Regions from separate parts of the Homo sapiens genome. Here region 1 is linked to region 2. Evidence: fine-mapped expression QTL. Tissue or cell type: skeletal muscle. Region 2 holds a variant in brackets; the other region holds the start of a gene. All regions are shown on one strand. Distances are from middle to middle.

What was found. PIP is the estimated chance that this variant, and not a neighbour inherited with it, causes the effect.
Region 1: OLFML2A starts here. The variant in region 2 is fine-mapped to the expression of OLFML2A in skeletal muscle (GTEx, PIP 0.98).

Annotation. Positions count from the first base shown.
Region 1 is chr9:124,775,816-124,778,492 of GRCh38, forward strand. It overlaps OLFML2A (olfactomedin like 2A), which reads left to right and starts at 1,318. Exons shown (of 8, transcript NM_182487.4): 1 at 1,318-1,545. The coding sequence starts at 1,456. RefSeq lists silencers at 1,222-1,321, 1,392-1,691.
Region 2 is chr9:124,838,828-124,841,504 of GRCh38, forward strand. No RefSeq gene overlaps it. Among named protein-coding and RNA genes, the nearest start is that of WDR38, 13 kb to the right of the region's middle. RefSeq lists enhancers at 925-1,528, 1,529-2,131. The variant G/A (reference allele first, on the strand shown) is at 1,558.

The sequences.
Region 1 (2,677 bases), 63 kb before region 2:
TAGTAGAGGCGAGTTTTCACCATGTTGCCCAGGCTGGGAGAGTTTGCATTTTTAACAAGTTATCCGATGATGCGGAGGCTGAGACCAAGGACCACACTTTGAGAACCACTGAGTTCAATGTTCATGGGGAGAAACTAAGAATGTGCCCTAGGAAGTCATGCTCCAACACAAGGAAACAAACACACCAACAAGAAAGACAGTCCCATTGAGCAATAAATTCTATGAAGAAAATGAGACCAAGCATGGTGGCTCACACTTGTAATCCCAACACTTTGAGAGACTAGGGTGGCTGGATTGCTTGAGCCCGGGAGTTTGAGAGCCTGGGCAACACAGAAGACCCCATCCCTAAAATAAATACAGAAATTAGCCAGCATGGTGGCACATGCCTGTAGTCCAAGTTATTCAGAAGGCTGAGGGAGGAGGATAGCTTGAGCTGGAAAGTTGACGATACAGTGAGCTGTATTCGCAACACAGCACTCCAGCCTGGGTGACAAAGGAAGACCCAGTCAAAAAAAAAAAAGGAAATGCTGGGTGCAGTGGCTCATGCCTGTAATCTCAACACTTTCGGAGGCCAAGGTGGGAGGATTGCTTGAGCCCAGAAGTTCAAGACCAGTCTAGGCAACAGAGTGAGACCCCGTCTCTGCAAAAAAAAAAAAAACTTTAAATTAGCCAGGTGTAGTGGTGCACACCTGTAGTTTCAGCTACTCAGGAGGCTGAGGTGGGAGGATCACTTGAGCTGGGAAGGTCAAGGCTGTAGTGAGCTGGGATCGCACCACTGCACTACGGCCTGGGCAACAGAGTGAGAAAAATAAAAATTTAAAAGCCGGAAGCTACTGGAGTTTGGGAGCCGACAGGAGGGATTCCAGAGGGAAGGAGAAATGAAAGACGGAAGACAGGTTGGGGTTGCTGAGCCTTGGGAAGGCTTACAGCAGTCAGGTCCCTGTCCAGAAGTGGGTGAAATCGGAGAGCGCAAGGGCTCACGTGCCCTGGGAACATCCGTCTCTCATGCGAACTTTACAAACACTCCAAAAGGAAAGCACGAGTCCCCCATCTTACAGATGAGGAAACTGAGGCACACAGGTGAAGGGACACGCCCAAGGTCCCACGACTCACAGGACAGGACCTGAGTCCGTGAGAGGAGCCCACGCGCCTCGCCCTGGCCCCGTTGCTCCTGCCGGCTGCGATCGAGACCCACCCTGGCGCGCGGGCAGGGATGCCCTTGGGAGAGCCGCCCGACGACGGGGAGGCCCCGCGAACGGCGGGCGGGGCGGGGCGGGGTGCCCCCTCCGCCCTAGCTCCGCCCCTGGCGGCGCTGGAAGACCCGCGGGGCTGGCAGCAGGGTGCAGGCGCGGGGCGCGGGGCAGGCAGAGCGGGCGAAGGCGCGGAGCTCGCAGTGCAGCCCGCGCTTCCCAGCGTCCGTGCCCGGCCGCCTGTGCCTACCGTGCCCGTGGCGCCATGGCCGCTGCCGCCCTCCCGCCCCGGCCGCTGCTCCTTCTGCCGCTAGTGCTGCTGCTGAGCGGCCGCCCCACGCGCGCCGACAGTAAGGTACGCACGCCCCTCGGACCCGCGCGGCTCGGCGGGTAGCGGGGCGCGAGGGGGCGCTGTGGCTGGGGTGCGGCCCGGGAGGGAGCCCGGGGCCAGGGCGGAGGAGCCGGGAGCTGAGAGACCGAACCTGGGACTTCTCAGCACTGAAGCCGCAGGGGCAGGGGCCCCGAGAGAGGGGCGCGTGGAGGAACAAGCGCTGGAGATGTAGGGATGCTAGGGACCCGGGGCCTGAGGAAGGGGCGCTGGGACCGGGTCCGATTCCCGGAGGGGTCGGGGGATTTCCCCGGAGTGCTGGCCAGACTCGGGGTTCGTAGGGGAAGCTCCTGGCAACTGTTACCCAACGACTCCCAGGCTTGCAGCAAGCCCTGGGCCACGGCTTTCACGGCCCGCTGGGGACTGGGGGTCTTCTCTACCCGATGAACGCAGCCGCGCTGGCCACTCGCCTGGCCTCTGATGTTCTTGCCAGGGACCGGGTGCACCCCCTGGAGGACTAGGTAGCTCCAGAAGTGGTCTGAGCTGTTCTCTGCTGTGGCTAAGAGGATCTGCTCTGGTGTCAAGCCGACCTGGGTTCAGTCGCACATCCGCTTCTCATCCGCCATCGCCCATCTGAGCCTCCGTCTATTCACCTGTAGATACAGGGAGAATCATGGGACCCACTTCCTGCAGTTGATGGTCTCTAGATGCGGTGTGGTCATGCCTGTAAAGTACTTAGCACTAGGCCGGGCGCGGTGGCTCACGCCTGTAATCCCAGCACTTTGGGAGGCCGAGACGGGCGGATCACAAGGTCAGGAGATCGAGACCATCCTGGCTAACACGGTGAAACCCCGTCTCTACTAAAAATACAAAAAAAAGTAGCCAGGCATGGTGGTGGGCGCCTGTAGTCCCAGCTACTCCGGAAGCTGAGGTAGGAGAATGGCGTGAACCCGGGAGGCGGAGCTTGCAGTGAGCCGAGATCGCGCCACTGCACTCCAGCCTGGGCGACAGAGCGAGACTCCGTGTCAAAAAAAAAAAGAAAAAAAAAAAATACTTAGCACCAGAGCACTTGGGGTGTTCTGGAAATGACTCCCTGATGGCCAGGTTCAGTGGCTCACACCTGTAATCCTAGCACTTTGGGAGGCCAAGGCAGGTGGAT
Region 2 (2,677 bases):
AGGCGGTGGGAGGCTCAGGCATGGCGGGCTGCAGGTCCCGAGCCCTGCCCCGCGGGAAGGCAGCTAAGGCCCGGTGAGAAATCGAGCGCAGCGCTGGTGGGCTGGCACTGCTGGGGGACCCAGTACACCCTCTGCAGCCGCTGGCCCGGGGCCGGTGGGGCCGGCCGGCTGCTCCGAGTGCATCCGCCAAGCCCGCCCGCCAAGCCCACACCCATCCGGAACTCCAGCTGGCCCGCAAGCGCCGCGCGCAGCCCCGGTTCCCCGCTCGCGCCTCTCCCTCCACACCTCCCTGCAAGCTGAGGGAGCCGGCTCTGGCCTTGGCCAGCCCAGAAAGGGGCTTCCACAGTGCAGCAGTGGGCTAAAGGGCTCCTCAAGTGCCGCCAAAGTGGGAGCCCAGGCAGAGGAGGCACCGAGAGCGAGTGAGGGCTGTGAGGACTGCCAGCACGCTGTCACCTCTCACTGGGTTCAAGCAATTCTCCTGCCTCAGCCTCCCGAGTAGCTGGGATTGCAGGTGCCTGCCACCATGCCCAACTAATTTTTGTATTTTTAGTAGAGACAGGGTTTCACCATGTTGGCCAGGCTGGTCTTGAACTCCTGACCTCAAGTGATCTGCCCGTCTCGGCCTCCCAAAGTACTGGGATTACAGGCATGAGCCACCGTGCCTGGCCCCTGCTAAATGTTTATCTTTTATTTTTTGTGGAGATGGGTGCTTGCTATGTTGCCCAGGTTGGTCTTGAACTCCTGGCTTCTAAGCAGTCCTCCTGCCTTGGTCTCCTAGAGTGCTCGGATTGTGGGCATGAGCCACTGCACCCAGCCTCAAGTGGGGATTTGAACCCAGGTCTGGATGGATGCTAAGCCCTCGCAGAGTGCGCAATGGAGACTTGCATAGAACGGCACAGCTGCGGGCAGTGGAAGGCTGAGATTTAGGCCTGAACTTCTGGAAAGAAATGGGAGAGGAAATGACTCGATGTTCCTCCTACCCCTACTGGTCAGGAAGGGAAGGGCAATGCCCCAGACAGGCCGAGGAGGGCTTCCTACCCACCCCTACCCCCAGACACAGGGGCCCTGGGCTGGCAGGAGTCCATTATCATGAAGTCTCAGGGGTGGGGGCAGCTGAGCAAACATCAGTTCCCTGGCCTGATACAAAATGGCCATTGAAGCATTTCAGGGCCTGGGGGAGGTGTGGGGCTGCTGAGACAAGCTTCTGAATGGAGGGGCCGGGCTACTGCACGGCACCCCAGCTGCCAACACTTTCAACTTTGTGATGAGGAAGCTGAGGCCCAGACAAGCCGATACATTAGCCTGGACTCACACAGCCAGTCAGATCCCATCATTCTGGCCCACAGGGTGGGGGTCTGGGGGGTGCCCAATGGAGGCCGGTGCCAAGTTCCAGGTGTGAGCCCATGGACCCGGGAACCCACAAGTTGCCTGTACTTAGCCCCAGCTCCAGGTGGCTCAGAGCAGCCCTTGCCAGCCCTGAGAGGCTCAGCAAGGAGCTCAAGGTCACACGGCAAGCAGAAACTGCCAGTGTCTCCCTGCCCGGCCAGGGCGGCTCCC[G/A]CTTTCTGGCCTGAGCTCTGCTTCCCACATGACCCCCACTCTCCCAAGCCCCATCCGTCAGCTGTCTCCTTGGAGGGCGCTGCGAGGCTGGTCAGATTTCCACAGGGCACATGGGTGCCGGGTGTGACTGGGACAGCTGGGAGGGCAGGTGGGCGGAGGGGGCTGCTGGCGGCACGAGGCCCCAGCCAGGGATGGGATCCTGCAGCAACTGCTCCAGGCTGCCCGAGGGGGGCCAGGCCCTCATGGGGGAGCTGATTCTGGGTCCGTATCCCAGCTGTGCCACCGAACTGGCTGGTGACCCTCGTTTGGCGTCTCTTCCTCTCCTGGATTCTCGAGTTCCCCAGCTGGTGGCGCTGTGATGGTCAGGTTATTATTAATTATTATCATTATTACCTCCTGGTGGCCTGGGAAGAAATGGTCAGGCCAGAGAACCTAAGCAGAGGTGGCTGGGGGGCCACTTGACCCCTGAAGTTCCATTGGCTTCCTAAAGCTCCATTTGGCCATTTGGGCTGTCCCTTGCTGCTGCTGAAGGCCCCTGTTGCTCACCACGGCTCCCCCAATGCTTGTGACAGCACAGTTCAGAACTCGCGTGAGATTGGAGTCATTCTGGCTGGAGGGGGGCCAGAGGCCCAGAATTCCAGCCCTGCGTCTCCTCTTTCTCCACATTTCACCCCCCGACCCCCCTGCACCAGGTAGCTCTGAGGCCACCCTTGGCACCGTCAGGGTTCCATGACACCTACTTTGAAAACCATGGCCAGAATGCCATCTAAACCCCTTAGCTAGGCATTCCAAGCCTCCATTCCCCACGCCTCCCCCAAGTCTCTAATTCTTATTTTCCCCAGGTGTCCCCCAGGTGACCCAGTGCCCACCACACCCGATTCCTGGCTGCTTCAGAAACAGGCTCTGCAGCTTTACCCTGGGGCCTTTATAGATGCCGTTTCTGCCTCTCAGAATCTTCTTTTCCGCTTAGCACCTGGCAAATACTTCCTTAACTCCAGAGGCCTGGAAGCCCATTGTCTCCTCCCAGAAGACCTCCCTGATTGCGGAAAGAGGGTCCCTTGCTCTTCCCTGAGCTCTCTGGGGCCCTGCAGAGGTCAGGGGGCCCAGAGGGGTTGAGGGG